Regions from separate parts of the Homo sapiens genome. Here region 1 is linked to region 2. The links come from fine-mapping of genetic effects on gene expression. A gene starts in region 2. The other region holds a variant in brackets. All regions are shown on one strand. Distances are between the middles of the regions. Region 1 overlaps EXOSC7 (exosome component 7). Region 2 holds the start of EXOSC7 (exosome component 7).

The links. PIP is the estimated chance that this variant, and not a neighbour inherited with it, causes the effect.
Region 1: its variant is fine-mapped to the expression of EXOSC7 in whole blood (TOPMed, PIP above 0.99). The same link has a PIP of 0.9 or more in T cells, blood mononuclear cells and monocytes.

Annotation. Positions count from the first base shown.
Region 1 is chr3:45,007,773-45,017,778 of GRCh38, reverse strand. EXOSC7 (exosome component 7) reads right to left here. Exons shown (of 8, transcript NM_015004.4): 8 at 6,308-6,544. The coding sequence ends at 6,440. Among named protein-coding and RNA genes, the nearest start is that of CLEC3B, 14 kb to the left of the region's middle. RefSeq lists an enhancer at 5,566-5,685. The variant G/A (reference allele first, on the strand shown) is at 5,600.
Region 2 is chr3:44,968,943-44,979,363 of GRCh38, reverse strand. It overlaps EXOSC7 (exosome component 7), which reads right to left and starts at 3,120. Exons shown (of 8, transcript NM_015004.4): 1 at 3,030-3,120. The coding sequence starts at 3,086. ZDHHC3 (zDHHC palmitoyltransferase 3) reads left to right here and starts at 3,190. Exons shown (of 7, transcript NM_001135179.2): 1 at 3,190-3,431. RefSeq lists silencers at 3,154-3,223, 3,344-3,443 and an enhancer at 3,666-4,210.

The sequences.
Region 1 (10,006 bases), 39 kb before region 2:
TGTCTCTAAGAAAAAAAAAAAAAAAAACTTTGTTGGCCTAGTACTCTGTCATTCATTCAAGTATTGGCTCTGTCCCTGTGTACCGGGCCCTGAGTTAGGTAGGTCCTAACTCAACCAAATCTTAGCTCTCAAGGGGCTCACAGTCCTTGTTGTTTTATCCTTAAAGCTCTGTAGTGTGGCAGTGGAAAGAGAATGGAGTCCCGAGTTCCAAATTTGGTTGAGATACCTGGCACTTGTGTCGTTTTGGATGAGTTACTCAAGACCAAACTCCTCTTCTGTAAAGTGGGGTAATAATCTCTACCCTGCTTGCACATGGGATTCTTTCAAGGAGCAAACTGAGGTCTCGCATGGGAGACAGCTGAGCAACCTGCAAGGTTGTGGGAAGGAGGAGGGGTGGTCTGAGCCACCACGCTGTCCCAGTGTGTCAAGGAGCTTGATAGCCTCTTTCCACACCTCGATTCCTTCCACTCCAAGGGACAGTAACTTAATCACCTGATTTGTAACTTTGGGAATAATAAACTGGGCATGCACTTACCTGATGCCCTCAGCTATAATAGTTCACACAAGAGGAGAAAAACAGATAGCCCTATAGAATGCTACAGGAGATTTCAATCTTCTTTAGCTGAAACTCCCTGACTTCCCATCATGTCTGAGAATTTGGCAAATATAAACCCAGCTGTGTGTTTAGGGATCTTTGAGTTTCTAAATCATCACACTATCCCTACACAGCTTTGCTGGAGGTTTTGCAGGTTTCCCTTTCCCCGGTAGAGTTCCTCTATGTTCCCAAGCCTGATTCTTATTCCACGTCCAGAATCTGCAAATGCCCCCAGGGAAGGAAATGCCAGTGACAGCCTGCTCACTTCAGAAAGTCTCCCCCTTCTCTGGAATTTTAGGCCATGAAATCCTCTTTACTTCCAGAGCTTCCCAAAATCTTTAATGATATGACTCTTGAAATGCATTCAGCATTTTTAGCTGCAGCAGCATGAATGGTGGTCCACCATGACCTACATATCCTACCCAGAACTGAAGTCAAAACACTTGTTGAACACCTCCCTTGGAAAATGTCCTCTGATGGGCATTAACACGATTCCCGACTATCTGCGCTTTTTTTGGCCCATTCCCACAGGTCCATACAAATCCCTTTTCTCTGATCATCCCATCTTACTCCTTTCAGGCCCTTGTCCAACTAGCCAAGTTACTCCCTACTATCCGGGAATCCACGTGTACCCTTATCCCTTTGTGCAAACTTAACAACCAAGTGCACTGGCTGCACTCAGTTCTCTCACTGCTGTCCTGCAGGGCTGTAATGCAGGAGCAGTCCCTTTGGGGCACACATCAATATAGAGAACCAACTCATCCACAAGGCAGACCTGGGGTTTTCCTCTTCCAGTAGCTGGCTGCAGGAGTCCCCTCCCCCATGAGGTCATAAGTGTGGATGAGAGGCACTGGCGAACAGGGGTGACAGACGAATCTGGGCTACCTGGTATATTCCTTGGTTGTGCCCACTGAACTGCTCAGGCCTAATCCTGAATGTACATTTTCATGTTGCATGGATTGTTGCTGCACCCACCCAAACTTATGACCTGGTGGGTCTGACAATAACCAGCATGATGGGTGGCTCAGGTCACTTGAGGTCCCAGGGTTGGGTATTCAGTCTCTAATTGGGCCCAGTGGCAAGCCAGAAACTTCTTTTCAAACTCACTCATTTGGAGGTGAATAGCTTTCCACCACATGGCCTTGCTCCAGAATCCTAGGGTCTGTGCTACAACGTTCCTGTTGGGCCTGCCAGAAACTACACAGCACCCTTACCTGCCCCAGATAGCACTAGCTCCGTTGGAATTTCTGGGTCACATGGAGCAGGAGGGATGCTTGTAATGCAGCTTAAACAGGCTTCAGAGTCCTGTCTTATTCTGGACTCCCATTCACAACTGGTAGGTTTGTGAATTACTCAATAAATGCATTGAGACAGCATTCTCAAGTACAGCATTCTTGTCTCCAAAATCCAGAGGCCCAACAAGTGCTGTACTTCTCAGTGAGGGTAGTGGGGATGAGGGTGGGTGCAAGGTTCAAAATCTACCACCTTAGAGGGGGTATCTCTCAGAATGCCCCACACCACTGGATACCTAAAAACATTATCAGTGTGGTGGTCTCCTTAATCTTCATGGGGTTTATTTCCCACCCTCTCAGGCATGTGTCTTTTACTAGGACTTCCAACGGCTTTCCACGTCCTATGTACTAGATCTAATAAACATGATTTTATCAACATAAATAGATCAGCGCGATGGCCCTGAAGATATCACTGTGACAAAAAGTAGGTGATTAACATAGACCGCTGACAAGACACTGAACACATTTTGCAGTCCTTCCACATAAGAGATCTGCTTTTGACCCTTCTTGTTAATGGGGATTAAGGAAGAATTTTCCTAACTTATAGCCACATACGAAGCATTGGAGGCTGTGCTGATTAATCTTAGTGAAGATACTTCATCCAACAAAGCAGTGGAAATTGGAGCTCTCTCGTGTGTTTGGTGGTCATCTACCATGATTCACCTGGCTTTTACAGGGGCCACAGAGATAAGATAAATGGCAATGAGGCGGGGACAACTACCCTTGCATCCTTAAAGTCTTTGATGTTGGTCCTAATCTCTGCAATTTCTCCCAAGATCCAATATTGTCTCTGATTTATTATCTTGGCCAGGGAAGGGAGGCAGTTTCCAACCTTGACCCTTCTTACCATTGTGGTTTTCATTCCATCCCATTTATGACATCTCAATTGTACCACATCCATCCCACCTACACATTTGGGGAAGGAAATTATCCCAGGACCTAATGACCATTGTGAGCCAGACTTACTTGTACCATCCATTTATTACCTAGCCTCCATCCCCCATCCCCTTTGACTGGAGAGCCTTGGTGGCATTTCAGGTCTCCTAATACAGGCATCAAGTCAAAACCCAGATTCAAAAGGCTTCAAATCACCTTTCCTCAATGCTGGTATTCCAGACTGGAGAACTATTATTGTAGGTGCTGATGGTGATATTACAGGATTCTTATTTAAAGACACCAACCTCCCTCCTGTCAATGGACTTTGATCTGTGAACTGGCTTACGGAAACTGGGTGAAGGACTGGAATTTCCCATTATAGTGGTTGACATAAGCTTTTTATGCTCCAATTATTATTATTTTTAATTTTGACAAGTTGAGTAAAATCCTGATTGGCTGCCCATGTCTTAACCCTCAGAACACATAATCTATTAGCTACGGTCTGACTGCCGTAGAGGCAGAGGCGAGGCTGAGGACAGAAGGTAATCCATCAGAGGCATCTAGCAATGCATGGAACATTGTTTCCCCACTAACTAGCAGTTACTTTATGGCCATTATTTGGGATGTATAAATAACACTGGGATAAACTCCTCTGTATTAATGTTTCCACTCCCCTTGTATCATAAATTATTTACTTTGATTACATGCCCAGAAGTAGAATTACTAGGTCAAAGGGCAAACATTTTTAAGGCTTTTTGTTGAGAAGGAGTCTCGCTCTGTAGCCAGGCTGGAGTGCAGTGGCGCGATCTTGGCTCACGGCAACCTCCACCTCCTGGGTTCAAGCAATTCTCCTGCCTCAGCCTCCCAAGTAGCTGGGATTACAGGCGTGTGCCACCATGCCAATTTTTGTATTTTTAATAGAGATGGGTTTCACCATGTTGGCCAGGATGGTCTCGATCTCTTGACCTCATGATCCGCCCACCTCAGCCTCCCAAAGTGCTGGGATTACAGGCGTGAGTCACCACACCCGGTCTTTTAAGGCTTTTAATGCACACTGCCAGATTGTTTTCCAAAAAGTCTGGAATAGCGAAGACTTATTCTCTACTGGCAGTTTGTATGTTAGACAACTGGCTTTACTGAGCAAACAAACTACTGTTAATATTCTAAACTCGGCCAGGTGCTGTGGCTCACGCTTGTAATCCCAGCACATTGGGAGGCCGAGGCAGGCGGATCACAAGGTCAGGAGATCAAGACCATCCTGGCCAACATGGTGAAACCCTGTCTCTAATAAAATAAAAAAAATTACCCAGGTGTGGTGGTGCACGCCTGTAGTCCCAGCTACTCAGTAGGGTGAGGCAGGGGAATCGCTTGAACCCGAGAGGCAGAGACTGCAGTGGGTGAGATCACGCCACTGCACTCCAGCCTGGCAAAAGAACGAGACTCCGTCTCAACAACGAGAAAAAAATCTAAACTCATGTCCCAGTGCAGTGGCTCATACCTGTAATCCCAGCACTTTAGGAGGCCAAGGCAGGAGGATTGCTTGAGGCCAGGAGCTCAAGACCAGCCTGGGCAACATAGTGAGACCCTCATTTTAAAAAAATAATTTGCTGGGCATGGTGGCATGCCTGCAGTCCCAGGAAGGTGGGAAGATCACATGAGCCCAGGAGTTTGAGGCTGCAATGAGCTATGATTGCACCATTGCATTCCAGCCTCGGTGACAGAGTGAGACCCTATCTCTAAGAACAAAGAAAAGAAAAAAAATTAACTCGTGATTTGGAAGACTAAAGAATCAGAGACAAAAACCCACTTGAATATTATTTAACATTGCATTTCTTATACTCCGCCCTTACTTTGACCAACTTCAATGTTCTTCTACCTAATGTTTATTTAAAGACCACTAAAGACAGCTGTGGCTCTGCTGGATCAAACAGGTCTGTCCCAGGATAATATTTTTCCAAGTCTTTGCCAGTCTCTGTCTTCAGTTTTCTCTTCTCTCACTCTGACAGTTGCAACAATCAGATCTTTCCAATAAATGCCTCTCCTGGAGAGTCCCTGCTCATATGGTGTTTTGTTTCATTTGCAATATACGTATATTACATGTAGGGGTGGCCTTCAGGGAAAGGTATGGGGTGGCTAGAAACAGATTCCACCATCTTTTTCTCTTCTTTCTCCATTTTTACTGGAAGTGCTTAGCCAGCCATCCAAGCTGGTAGCTGCTTGTCATACCACTGGCATGGCAAAGCCTCATCTGTCTGTCTGAAGGGAAGTGAAGCAGAGCTGAGTCTGACATATATGACAGTACCCATTCTAATTTATGCATCTCAAAATGATCCACTGGAATCAACCATCAAAAGCAAATGCTTCTAAACTTTATTCACACTCGAGTTGCATCTCTGCGCCACCACTGCCAATGTTTTGTCATGTCACGGGCAGTCAACCAGGAGCAGGGAAGGAGAGACCAGGCTGATTTCTGCCTTGTTGGGAACACTGTCATGGTGCCTGTAGATAGTCACTGAAGAAACATAAAAGATGAAAACCCAGGCTATGCTCTCAACAGGGCAGAAGCTCCCCCATTAAGCCCAAGTCTAGGCAGCTGCTTCTCTCCACAGGGATGGACCTGGCCTTGCTGGGAGGAACGCCCACACCAGGACCTCTGGAAGCAGTCCCAAGGGCTTCAGCTCACATTATGTTCTTTCCATTTGGTGATAAATTCCTAACGCCTTACCCCATTTGCTAACTGGAATGCAGAGAGCAAATGCCACGGTTGAAACGCTCTCCTTCGTGAATCAGCTCCTTCCCCAGGGTGTTTTAAGATTTAGGAGTTTCAGTTCCCCTA[G/A]AAAAAAAAACAAAGGCTGCTCTACACATGAAGAGACTTAATTTTAACACACTGCACAGTGAGACTACAGGCTTATAGGAAGAGCCTTCTGGGCCAGCAAGCATAGTCTTCCTTTCAATGCTGAGAGCATGAAGGCAGCTGAATTATCAAATGACAACATCTTGAAAGCTGCCTTCTTAATGCTGACAAAACAAAATCTTAGGAAACACCAGGGAGTGGTTATAAAACACAAAGCAATTTCAAAACAAGAGTGATAAGAAAGGATGGCTAAGGGCCAAAGTGGCTGCCACTAAAGCCCCTGAACCTAGGGAATTCCATTCGGATCTCTTGGAGGGCAGGAAGTCAGAGCTGGACTTTCCCAGGATTTGGGATGGCTAACCAGACAGACAGACGCCCTGGGTGTGTACCTGCAGCAGAGTGCCTCCTCTTTTTTCCTCTCCCAGAACCACCCAAATACACAAGGTGAATGAACTTTTCTTTGTGATTCTTATTTTTAAAGTTCTTCAAGGGGAAAAAAATTCACAAAATACATATCATAAGCATTTCCTGTAAACCAGTTTCTGTCAGGTCTTTACTCCAGCTTGTGGGGGTCTCCCTTGGTGGCAGAGCTCTGGATTTGTCTGCCACTCACTAGATAAGGGCCAGACCCAGATGGGTCACTGAATGGTGCCTTGGCTTCAACTGAAGAACTCTAGACATACCAAACCAGACCAGAAAATAGCCTTTAATTTTACATGTACAAATGCTGCTGTAAATTCGTAACAGCGAAGAAAAATATATACGAACCGGTTTAAAAGGAAAAGTAAAAAACAATCCACAGTTGAGCAGTTGATGTGCAAATCATCCCAGGAATCCAACTTTCTGTCTCTTGGGCCCCAGGCTTTCTTCCTTGTGCACAACACTCTGCAAGGAGGCATGCAGTACCTTGCCCACACGCTTGCCAGTCTGTGGAGAAGGGACGGGAGAGAGCACACACCCCCTTGTAAGGCACACACACTCTGACCAGAAAAGCATTCCTTTCTGCCAGCTAGTCTTTCTGACATTGTACACATTCCATCTGCCTTAGAGGACTTTTATTTAATTAAAGCAAATTAAAACAAAAACCACAGACCCCAACAACATAATAAATTTTGTAAAAATCGTCATATCAAAAAAATAAAAAAGAGAGACAAACACCAGCCCCCACCAGGCAACAAACAGAGAGCAGCAAAGCCTGCCCTGGCCATTAGCTCATGCTTCACTATCCTGCTGCCACTGCAACAAGCAACAAAGTTGTCAATCAAATCTGGGCTTGGGTACAGCCAGGTGACACTGTACTATAGGGAGACCACAGGGAATCCAGAGTCTGTCTGGAGAAGAAACAGATGATGCCAAGGACATTTTAGTAAGCAGCTTCTCATTCACCTCCCATGAAGCCTCTAAGCAGAACTGCTCAGGTGTGACCAAAGTCAGTACCTGGATGGGATCTTTGGTGTTTACTGCCATGCTGAGATGCTAAAGGCAGTGAAATGTTAGAATCGAAACACATCAAGAGGGACAACCCACAAAATTAATAATCAGTCCCTACAGAGCAGACACGAGAGGTAAAAAAAACAAAAACAAAAACAAAACAAAACAAAAAAACTCAATATGGCTGGGAGTAGTGGCTCATGCTTGTAATCCCAGCACTTTTGGAGGCCAAGGCAAGAGGATTTTGCTTGAGGCCAGGAGATCAAGACCAGACTGGGCAACAGAGTGAAACCCCATCTCTACAAAAAACTAAAAATTAGCTGTGCATGGTGGTATGCGCCTGTAGACCCAGCTACTCAGGGGGCTGAGATGGGAGGATTGTTTGAGCCCAGGAGTTCACGGCTGCAGTGAGCTGTGACTGTGCCACTGTACTCCAGCCTGGATAACAGAGCAAGACCCTGTCTCAAAAAACAACCACCACCCCAATATAAAAAAATATATTTTTCTTTATGAAACTGTTATTCTGTCTCTGGGCCCAAGAATCATTTTAAGAATACAAAGAACCAACCACAAATCTCTACCTTATCAGGTCTTTCACATTCCCATAGCAGTGTGGATTCAACTCTGCCACTGGTTCCATTCTCAACAATGTTGAGATAAAAACATCCATGCCTAAATCCCTGCCTCAATCTCTTCAGTTACAGGTGTATCCTCCCCAGAGTAATGACTTGTGTGTCTTCTCCCCTGGCCCCTAACTGTAACATGGGATGAGATCCCAAGTATGACTAAAACTCTTATGAAAAGATGATTTCGATCTAAAAGGCTGGGAAGTGATCACCTCTATGAAATGCAAAGTCAGGGTTAAAGGTCAAAAAGGCCTTCGGGGGCTGGATGTGGTGGCTGATGCCTGTAATCTCAACACTTTGGGAGGCTGAGGCAGGCAGATCACAAGGTCAGGAGTTCAAGACCAGCCTGGCAAACATACTGAAACCCCGTCTCTACTAAAAATACAAAAAAATTAACTGGGAGTGGTGGCGGGCACCTGCAATCCCAGCTACTCGGGAAGCTGAGGCAGAATCACTTGAACCAGGGAGGCGGAGGTTGCAGTGAGCTGAGATCGCACCACTGCACTCCAGCCTGGGCGATAGTGTGAGACTCCATCTCAAAAAAAAAAAGGGCCTTTGGAAAGATTTTCCCATAACATTAGAAAAAGAAAAAAAAGTCTGAATCTGTCAAACAGGGGTACTGATTATTCATATACATGAGGGTGGGGAGAGAGGACAACAAGAGGAGATGAGATGGACAGGATGCCAGGACTTGAGAGGGCCTTGACGCCTCTGAATCCAGATGCAGGAAAGCAACTGCAGAGGCTAGGGGTGGCAGCCTGCACAACTACCCCCAAGGCTCTCAGCTCCACCAAGTCATTTTCCAGATTGCTGCATCCCTGTGTGAGATAAACAGTAAGACAGGGCCACAGAGCTATAGTCCCCTGTCCAGAGTTAGCAGACCTCACTCCCCAAACCTGAGGGGAGGACAAAGCTCAGCTCACTGAACAGAGCTCTGGTTCTGCCATCTATGACAGCCAGGGCAGATCTGGTTTATAAGGCTGACATTGCACAGTGGCTGGGAGCAGGGGCTCTGGACGCACACAGTCTTGGCTTAAATCCTAGCTCCAGTATTTATGAGCAGGGAGGCCTGTAGGCAAGCTGCTTATCCTCTGTGTGCCTCAGTTTCCTCATCTGTAAAAATGAGGACAATAATAATAGTTACCTCACAGGTTGTTGAGGACTAAATGATATATTTAAAGCAGTGAAAACAGTATCTGGCACATAGTACGCACACAATAAACTCCAGCTATTTGTTTACTGTGCTTGTTGTTGCTGTTTAAAGAAATTCTCATAAACTCTCCTGGGAGGGGGAAGAGTACCTTCTAAAACAAGGTTTGACAGTCCCTTGCCTAGAGGACTTTGGTAGAATTTATGCAGCATTAAGTCTGGAGAAATTTGAACTCAGGGTGCTTCATGGAGCACAGAGAATAAGAGCTGCCATTAGCTGAGAACTGATGACATATCAGGCACTGTGACATGTGCTTCTCCTCTACACCTCACATCATCCTAATAACAACCTCAGCAGTGTCTGGGCAGATATTACTATTATCAGTCCCACTTTGCAGATGAGGGGGACTATGGCCCAGAGCCAGGTTTGCAGCCAGGGCAGTACACCCTCACAGCCCATGGTTGGGAACTCCATGCTATATACAGTGCTCATTTTGGCCTTTTAAATAACATGATAAAGAGAGAAAGTAGATGTCATGTTCTTGGATTCTTCAGTATGAAGTCATTGTTTCTAAACACAAAAGAAGAGTGCTTGCTATTAAGCAATGATCTCTGGGCATGTGTGGTGATATAGAGGTTGCAAGAAAGTATGAATAATCAGATCCTGCTAACTCTGTTCCTGGAAGTTCAGTCAGTCAATCAGTCAGAAAGGTGAGGTGGATATAGGGGAAAGAAGGTCTGGGAAACAGGTGAGCAGGACCCTGTCCCTGCCCTGCGGGGCTTCCAGGCCAGTGAGGTGACAGACATGTGGGGCAAACAGTACAGAGAACTGTAGAAGCGCCTTGATGGCTCTGCTAGGGATGAGGGCAACCCAACCCAACTCCAGTGGGTCAGATTTCTTACCATCCCTGCTTGTCTCCATTTAAACACTTCTAGAGCTGTAACGAATTTGGGAGACAGCCACAGTTCAGCCCGTGCTTCCACCTTTACTCACCCACTTCTAGGGACAGGAAGCAGTGAGCCAAGAATTCTATTCCCTCATCAAGTCACAAAGGCCTGCACTTTTGGAGTTACGAGTGGCTCTTTACATTATGAAAGTCCAACAGTCTTATTTAGACACATAGAAATGAGATGGGGGGTACTTACTGAGGACAATTAATGGTTACTGGTAGGCTCCTTACCT
Region 2 (10,421 bases):
TTACTGGACCAAAGGTGAAAAGTAAAACACAAAATGACTAGGACTATACAAGCAACAGGAGTTCAGGCAGGCACTGCTTAAGGTGCACTGCCGGCACTCTATAACCAACGCAACAAAAGTTTAGGAGATTTCAGAACTGAATCAGTTGAGATTCCATGGTAGGCTCATTCACCTGCATCCTGACCTTTATTTGGATGGTGTAAATTGTGTTTTGCTCCTCTATACATATGGCATATTTTGGGCCAACATTAATAAGCCCTTATGAAGACGTTGATTTGAAGCCCATTACTCTGCATGGCTCTGTGATACACAGAGCTGAGCATTTACCAACAACTGTGCCCAAATATGTCCATGGTACTGGTGAGAGGGAGGTTTAATTTAAAAAATAAAAACACCATCCAACTCATTCCCCCTTTAAAGCTTACATCACCCATTCAATGCTACTAAGAACCTACCAAGTGCTAGACACTGGCTATGCCTTAAGGGTCCCCCATACAGACAAGTCAACAGGCTATTGCCTTCCAAGATCCATGATGAGCGAATGACTGAACCTCTAAGACCTCTAGGATCGTGCTTCTGGCCACCTCTGCAAGCTGATCTTCCACCATTTCCCCCAGCCCACCCCTTGGGCTCCACATGTCCTCCACCTGAGGATTTACAGACTCACCACCCCTTCCTTCTGGAACACTGGTGCCTACTTAATTCTCAGTCATGCTGAGAACTCAGTTCAAATGCTATTTCCTTAGGGAAGCCTCCTCTGACCTCCCAGTCTAGATCGTGTCCGTTTTTTCCTTCATAGCATTCAGTACAATTTTATATATAAACACTCAAGTACATTTATAGTTTCTGCATCTTCCTTCTAGCATGAGAGCTATATAAGGACAGGTTCCTTCCTAGCCCCTGAGTCTAGCTCAGTTCTGTGTTGAATGAATGAATACTGAGTCCTGAAGATACAGAGGAGGAATCCTTGACATGGATTTAGGGGAGCAATTCCACCTCCTTAGGGAAGCCTTCAGAGCATTACAAGTCCCTGGAATTCTTTTTATTTATTAAAAAAAAATTATTTCTTTAGAGATGGGCTCTCACTGTGTTGCCCAAGCTGGTCTCAAACTCCTAGGCTCAAGCAATCCTCCCATCTCAGCCTTTCAAAGTGCTGGGATTACAGGCGTGAGCCACAATGCCCGGCCCCTGGTATACTTTAACTTCAACCTCCACTAACTATACCACTTCCTTGGCATAGATCTTACATTACCTTTGTTTTTATTTTATTCACTTTTACTCTCTGTTTGTCTCCCTCCTATCTTTCATTTATTTCACAACCATGTTTTGGCATCCCTGCTGTTTCCCACATAACATGCCAGGAGCTAGATATATGTTGGTAAATAAAATTAACTAATGACCATGGTGGGACTCTGCTGCTGGATAGCTAATGAACTGCCGTGGGAATTAAGGGTGCTGGGGAGAAAGCTCTAACCTTGAGGTTACAGATATATCCATGCCTCAGTGCCACTTTCAGGGATGAAATGTTGAGAGAAAATAGGACACATGACAGAGTCACTACATCATGGTAAGCTCCGGTAACAAAGAAGACCAAAGGTTTTTAAATTTAGAGGAAAACGGTTATCCGTAATGTGTCCCTAAAAAAATACTTTGAGGATAAAAATCACCTGAACAAAGTGTATACAAAAATATAGCAGGGAAAGACATATCTAACTGCTTTTGGGCATTTTTATGCCCCCTCACACACAAATAACATACATGTTACCCTGTAATACACACATATGTCCCACTGTTGTTAATCCTGAATTATAACTAAAATATGCAACTGTGAGTTCTGACTTTATTATCCAGGCATAATATGCTAAATATTGGCATTTCTTCATATATAAAGGGCCCAGAAGATAACGGCAGGTCACGATTTTTAAATGGACATGTCCTTAACTCACGTTGTGGGACTTCAATGATAGCTGGCCGCTTCAATCCGATGGCTACATCACGGGACCACTGACTTTGCAGTTGGTACTGACAGAGGAAAGGCATGAGGAAAAGAGGTAGGAGCTGTCGCCAGAACTCTGCCAAGGATGGGATGAAGAACTCTGATAGGAGGACCACACCGTAGGTTAACAAGTGGAGACACAGCCGGAGGAGGATACAGGGTAGCTCGTTACCAGGTCCAACATTTTTCAACCCTCGTTCTGGAGTGGTCATAACCAGGGATTTAATATAGAACACAGAGGACATTAGGTTATAGCTGCCTAGGGATCTTAGTTCTTCATTGGCAAAATGGAAACAGCACTTAGGCTATCGGCTGCCTAGCCGCTTTTTTTTTGAGACTCGGCTCACTGCAACCTCCGCCTCCCGGGTTCAAGCGATTCTCCTGCCTCAGTCTCCCGAGTAGCTGGGACTACAGGCGTGCGCCACCACGCCCAGCTAAATTTTTTTGTATTTTTAGCAGAGACGGGGTTTCACCATGTTGGTCAGGACGGTCTCTTGACCTCGTGATCCGCCCGCCTCGGCCTCCCAAAGTGCTGGGATTACAGGCGTCCTAGCCGCTTTTTAAAAACCCTTCCCCCTTTATTTGTACGGCAATTTGTATTTTCAAAGTGCGTTCACCTCGCATGCGCCCTCCTAACCACGAGGTGAGGAAAAGCAGGCCAGAAGCCCACCTCCAAACTCCCATTTCCTCGAAGAGAAAACTGAGGCTCGGACAAGATCTGTGCGCGAACGCCGAATGGATGGCCCTGGGGCCGATGCTCTCTCACTAAGAAAAGGCCTCCGAGACTGCCCAAGCTTCCTGCCCGGGTTCGGAATCTTATAGACCCGCAAAACTGCAAATGCGCTAACAGTCCTAAAAACGTCCACGTTGCCAGCTCTGAATTGCAAACGCCGGCAGCAGAACCGTTTAATCACAAGGTAAACGGAGAGTCGCCGCAGCTCGGCTGCCTCCTCACTGGCAAACCCAGGGCAGGCCGCGACCCGCAGGGCCAGGCTGAACCCGGCGGCCGACCCAACGCCGCTGCTGTAGCTACCTGGACGCCATGCACGATGTACACCTTCTCCGCCTCGCTCAGCGTCACGGACGCCATGCTGCCGAGCTGCCCCACGAGCCGCACGTCATCTGCGCGCGTCCCCTCCTCTGGACCGCGCCCCCACGTCCCACCCCCCCCCGCCCCGCGTCAGCGCGTCATCAACCTGCGCGGCGGCCGCTCCTGCAGCCGCGGCCGCCGCCACTGCCGGGAGAGCTCGATGGGCTTCTCCTGCGCGCCGCCCGGTGTCTGGCCGAGTCCAGAGAGCCGCGGCGCCTCGTTCCGAGGAGCCATCGCCGAAGCCCGAGGCCGGGTCCCGGGTTGGGGACTGCAGGGGAAGGCAGCGGCGGCGGCGGCGGGAGCCCCACCGGGGTCTGGGACTGGGGAACTGCCTCCGGCTTCACGGTCAGTTGGGAAGGGAAACTGGGGTAGGGGTGAAGAAGCTGGGGTGAGGCGAGCCTCACGGGCCGGGGGACTCCCAGTGGGAGAGGCGTGCGGCGTAGTTGCTCAGAGCTGGAGTTGACTTAGGAGCGTGTGTGTGTGTGTGTGTGTGTGTGTGTGTGTGAGAGAGAGAGAGAGAGAGAGAGAGACCCCGACTAAGGAGGGGCGGACGTCGTGATTGGCCCGGGGGTGCTGTTTCCCTGCTCTTCTCCCCTCCATTTCTCTAGTCCCTAGGATGGCTGGAGAGGCGATGCAGCCCTCCCTAGGTAGTTCTTGGTGGGAAGGGTCCGGGAATGGGGGACACTAGTCCTAAGGCGTCCCCACCCCTCCACCCAGGAATATCTCTCGCTGGCTCGCTCACTCTCTGTGACCGAACGCTGTCCCATTACCTTGCTGGGACCTCTTGCCTCGGGTGCTTACCAGAGCGTTGTCCCACAGACGGGGGAGGAGGCGCTTGGTAACCGGCACTGGCGAGGTGCGCAGTGCCCGGACGTCCCCAACGCTTCCTAGCGGGAACTGGAAACCCCGGCTTGATGGAAGTGATTACTGGGAGCTGTGAGCAGTTGCCCGAAAAAAAGCCAACCCCAACCCCTTGCGATGGCCGAGTGGGAGTATGGGCATTGGATACCCGGAGAGGATATCTGCAAGGTGAAGCTGGGGTCACCAAAGGAACTCATTAAGGCGGGGCTGACAAAGTATGGTGCAAGTTTTAAAGGAGCCGTGTGGATAAATGGGAGAAAGTTAACCCAAATTAGTTGAAGCAAGGAGGGCAGGTTAAAGCAATTCTGATGACTTTCCTGATGTTCCATTTTTGAGGACCCTCAGCCAAAAAAAAAAAAAAATGGTATTTATCAGATAGTGGGTTCAAATACAGTTTCAGATAACTATTGGGAGCCTACTATAGATAGGCTTTGTGCTACCTTTAGAACACAAGACAAGTAAAACATACTATGCCCAGAGAAGTTCCCTGGGCAGATGAAGGCTCCAGGGCCAACATAACCACAGATCATGGTGGTTAGAGCTATGATGGTCGCATCAGTGGGCACAGTGGGATTGGGAGGTCGTCTGATAAGGTTATAGAGAGGAAGTGCTTGCTCACATTCTTAAGCATTAAACTGCTGAGCTCCAAAATTGATGATCAGTTCTTCGTAGACTGGACATTAGATGTTTCTTATGTCTCTACGTAATTCTCCACAGGGGCACCTAAAAGGAAGACAGCTTGCAGGGTTGGACTTTGCCTTCCAGGGAAACTGAAAGAGGTGAAGCCGGAAGGATTTCCTCCCTAATGAAGGCACAGGTGCCCCACCTGTTGTGGCACTTAGATGTGTTTGTGTGTGGTTGGACGGCTGGGTTTTATGTGAGGAGCTCTGTTGTGATAAGATAACATGAGATTGCTGATGTTATAAATGATATTTTCTAGATGTGCTAGAGATTGCTCAGAAAGGAGAGACCCTGGAAGTGGGATTTTAGAAGCTAGGATATCTGAGGAGACTGAGGATTTAAGAGGTGACAGCAAATGGACAGATCAGAAAGACACAGGAAGAAAAGCCTGAGTTCAGATACCATGGAGTTATCTTTATATAAAGATTTTCCAATGTCTTAAAATATAGAACATGTATTTGAACTGTCCCCCCCTCACAATTGACGGGAATTCCATACTGGACAAGGGTCTGCAGTATTTGCTAAATAATGTTATGAACGATGTCTTATATATTAGGCTAAGTAGGTAAGAGAGATGTAAACAGTAGAATGTTCCTTTTTAAATTGTCTACTAAAACAATGACAGTCTTCACTAATCATTCGGCTTAAATGCTGCCAGAACATTTTTATCACCTTTGCTGTAATAGTGCATTGGACGTCTTTAAAATCCATAAATTCTGAGTTCTTTTTTAGTGTATTGAAGTAATTCAAAGAACATATGATAACCAAAAAAATCAAGAAGTCAAGGATGGCACAGTATTAAACCGTCTTGTTTTTCCATCACTATTAGATTCATTTATTGAATGAATAAATGAATTGGGGCATACTATTCTGTAGGTTTGTGTATTCTAAAACCTTATACTCTAATTTTCAACACTAATTTACATAGTGCTTATTGTATGCCAAGCATTGTTCTAAGCACTTTATAAAGATTAACCAGGCTAGGTGCGGTGGCTGACATCTGTAATCCCAGCACTTTGGGAGGCCGAGGCCGGTGGATCACCTGAGGTTGGGAGTTTGAGACCAGCCTGACCAACATGGAGAAACCCCATCTTTACTAAAAATACAAAATCAGCCGGGCATGGTGGCGCATGCCTGCAATCCCAGCTACTCGGGAGGCTGAGGCAGGAGAATCGCTTGAACCCAGGAGGCGGAGGTTTTAGTGAGCTGAGATCACGCCATTGCACTCCAGCCTGGGCAACAAGAGCGAAACTCCATCTCAAAAAAAAATAAAAATAAAAAATAACTGATTCAATCCTTGCAACAGCCCTGTGATGCAAGTATTCTTATCCCTATTTTACAGATTGGGAAATGAGGCACAGAGAGGTTAAATGCCTTAACCAGGGTCACAGGTTACATCATTGGTAAATGGCAGAACCAGGACTTGAGACCAGGCAGTCTAGCTCTCCTGCCCATACTCCTAACCATCACCTTACACAGCCTCCCCCCAGGTTTTATTACATTCACCAGATTATTTGGTGAAGGAAATCCCAATTTTGTTATGGCGTTGGTAACTGTCCTATGAACTATATAGTTAATCTTAATTCCAAAAGCAAGAAGTCTGTTCAAGCATAAACTCATATCCCTTGAATCATTTTTCTAGAGGAACATGGAATGTGGTGCTGATGGGATGTTGCTGTGTCTGTTGCAACCCAATATTTTAAACAAGGTAAAAGGTTATATATGAGCAGAATAAGAGCTTAACTCCAAGTAGCTAAGGAGAGAGCCCTCAATGGCAAAGATGGCTGATAGATCTGGTACTAGGGTTGAGTAGCATGCATGGAGACCCAGATTCCAACCGTATGCCATACTCAGATATCTAGAAACTCCAGACAGTGTGTTTGCATGCCTGTGAGTCCCTGGTGTTCTTATGGGCATAAAGAGATAAACTCAAAACACAACACCTGCCTAAAAGTAGTTTAGAATTTATTATAGTGGGGGAGCCCAGGACCTCGAACTACTGCATGAACAAGACAATAAAATAAAGTGCTCAATTGAGACGTGGCAATTAGAAGAGAGGCCAGCCTATAATAAGGTGCTAATTGTGCAGGCCAGGTATCAAATACAAAAGGTAAAGAGCTGCTGCTAGCCACAAGCCGGCAACAATAACATGACAGAGATGGAGTAACTCTGTCCCACCCATCCTTGGTTAATTAAACCAATAAAAGCCAGTTACAAAAGAGCTTCAGGGCAATGCTGAGTCTGTGGTGCTGATGTTGCAGAGAGCTTTTTTGGAGACAGAGTCTTGCTCTGTTGTCTAGGCTGGAGTGCGGTGGCACAATCTCTGCTCACCGCAACCTCCGCCTCCTGGGTTCAAGCAATTCTTGTGCCTCAGCCTCCCGAGTAGCTGGGATTACAAGTGTGTGCCACCACTCCCGGCTAATTTTTGTATTTTTGGTAGAGACTGGGTTTGGCCATGTTGGTCAGGCTGGTCTCGAACTCCTGGCCTCAAGAGATCTGCCTGCCTTGGCCTCCCAAAGTGCTGTGATTATGGGCATGAGCCACCATGCCCAGCCATAGAGAGCTCTTAAAAGCCCAGCAGGAAACCTTCTGTTCCCAGTCCTAAGCAGACATGGCCATGTTTTAGGCCTTTTCCTTTGCATTTTCACCATTAGCCCAGCACCCTTGAAATGTACAAAGTCAGTTACCGTTTTGCCTGTAGATCTGTTTCCTTTAAACACTTTGCATTTGTCCCGCCTGTACCTTGTCTTAAAAGAATGAGGTGGGAGGATCCCTTAAGCCCCGGAGTTTGAGTCCAGCCTGGGCAACATAGACCCCATCGCTAAAAAATAATAAAATAAGTAATAAAATAATGATAGAAATGAAGAATATCTGTAAAGAATACTGTCATAGTCTGGCCAGCAGGTCTTCATCTGTCTTCTAGACATTGTAACTTGAGATTACAGTGATAGAAAAATTGCTAGTAATACATGGGTAAAGCTTACTCTTAATTAGAGGAAAAGTTATACAGTCTTCATGTGTGTTTCATTTTGGGAGAGTGACAGCATGTTTCCTATGTCTCATTAGGGCATATTTGAGAAAAGGGGGTAACAGATCCTGCTTACCAAATGTAGAAATATTTAAACACACACACCCTGATAGCCATGGAAAGTAACAAAGTCTCAAGTAGAAGTGGAGGGGTGATGTCTCAGTGTTGACCTGTTGGGGAAAAAATGAGGCTCATGCCATGCTGCCTTTAGTTCCTTCCTGTTTTGCATTTTAAAAAATCATTTGCTTTCCTCCTCGGAAGCAGATTTCCAGAGACAAATGGCCAGTTCATTCATGGCTGTCAACTGTGAAGGTGAGAAGGCTCCAGGTGCATGTCCCACTTAATTCAGTCATACATCCTAATACATTTGGAATGCATGGGAAATGTCATCATTTCATAGTCTCCTCCAAACCATAGACTTCGTAGTATGTATTGACTTGGCACTTGAACTCTTGGCAAGATATGAATATGTATTTCCTATTCAAGGTCAGTGGAGATGCAATGCCTTTGAGTGAGATCACTTTCTTACCTTAGCAAGGTAAGCCTAATGAGACAAGTACAGTTCTGGCCACAGTCCTGTTGCAGTAAAGTCTTCAGTATGTGAAGTGTATGTTTCTAAACCAAGAAATAGTAGCAGAGAATCTAGAAAGACAGGTTGTTTAGGAAGATAACAATCTATGGTAGAAAGACTTCCGGGCATCTTAGTCCAAAGATTTGGGCTTTGCTATTAACTTGCTTTATGACTTTGAACAAGTCAGTTAACCTAAGTCTCATTTTGCCCTCAAGTGAGTATCTTGCCAGGTTTTTAAACTCAGAATGGATCCTGGATATGCAAATATTTGAATATTGAAAAATGACCATGTTTAAATTGGGGTTTTTAAGACTTCTTTCATTTACCACTTCATTATACTTGATATATTTTGCTAGTGCTTTTTCCACTCTGAAAAAAATTAAATGAACAAAAGGAAGTCGTAATTTTATGCTGTACTTGATTGAAAAAACTAAACATGCTCAGGAAATTGCTAAGAGAGATAGTTACTAGTGGGCTTCTTTTTGAATATTAGCAAATCGGGAAAAGAGGTAAGTGAAGCTTTTGGTAAAAAAATGTAAAATCCAAGATATTAACAAAGAAAACGTTGAATTTGCTCCTGAGAACAGAGGACTCATAGAATCTCAGCCCTGCAAGGGGCCCTAGCAATCAGCGTGATCTTCCCCTTTGTTTTATCAAATGAGGAAACTGAGGCCCAGAATGGTAACTGTCTTGCCTGAGATCATGAGGTTAGCGAGTGGCAGGATTGGGAGTAAACTCTGGCCTCTTGATTCCAAGCTCAGTCTTCATTCCCTTTAGCACTAGCCTCCCATCTATTTCCAAAGCCCTCTGGTGAATGGCTGGAGAGCCCCTCACCAGGTAAGCAGGGGCTGTGTTCTCTTTCTCACAGCCCATTACAGCCTTCTTTCTGTGGTCCCAGGTTCCTCCCAGGGCTCTGCTCTTGCACTGCCACTTACAGTGCCTGGAATAAGTGATACCAGCAGATTCCTGAAAGTCAAATGGCTCCCCTTTTTAGGCCCTAGTACCTAGTACAGTTGCAATAACTGGTTCTCTCCCTTCCCTAGCTAGTCTTTCGGATTTCTCTAAGCACTTTTGCTTTTAGTCCCTAAAAACAACCAAGCTCTGGCCTAGCCTAAGTGATGTCACAGTGGCTGTGTGGCTGCACATGACACAATGTGGGCCCAGGTGTCATTCTCAACATCCTCAGGTGGGAACCTTTGCTGATAGGTCTCTGCCTAGCATGGGGGGAGGCGTTTTTTCTCACAAAAAGCAGCATTCTGTTACTTGGCACCACAGGAAGTATTTCCCAGCCAAAGCAGATTTTAGGGATTCAATCCTAGGTGACTCTTCTGGCTGAGGCTTCACGGCCTTCCTGCCTCCTAGGTTAGGGCAGGATCGGTATTCTAAATGTTGGCTGGTATTCAGCCAGGGCCCCACCTTAGAGCCCAAAATGCTTATGTTCAGGCCTGTGGCCTGTGAGCACCACTGCATGCAGCCCACTCGATAATGCCACCTCTGCATAACCATGTGTGGACAAGATAGCCAAACCGTAAGTAACCCAAGGTCACTGATGGAAACATCAATACTCCTCCCCCTTTTATTTTCTAGTTACTAGACAAAATTTAATTATTGTAGTAAGTAGTGAAAAGCAAGCCCTGGGGCAAGAGCAGACTTTGGGAGTATATCCTGTCTCCACCACTTCCTGGAAGTATGGTTGTAGGCATGCTTCAGTTTTCTCGTTTCTAAAAGCAGGATGGGGAAGTGGGCATTTATATGTGCAAAATAGAGTAGATGTGAGAATCAAACAGGAAGAGGCATGTGTAGCAAGCAGCCCAGTGCCCTGATGGAGGCAGTGGTGACACCTTAAGTGAGGGTCAGGAAAGAATCAGGGCCCCACCCTACATTCAGCATATCCCACACTTTGGCAACAATCAAGCAGAACTGGAGCCTACCCTCACAGAGGCCAGAAGGCAGTTCATTGTCAAATGAGATCATGCACTGGATTACAAGGGGTTCACAAACTATGAGAGTATCACCGTCATCGGCAAGTGTTCATTGGGTAGCTGGAGCAGTCATTTATTGTTGCCTTTATGAAGATGCTCCTGCTGGCTTACAAACTTCCTGCAAGGAGAAGTTAATGCAGGGAGATGGCAGCGTAGCAATTAAACAGATTGTAGTAGTTACCATCCATTAGACCTAGAAAACAAGTTAGCCA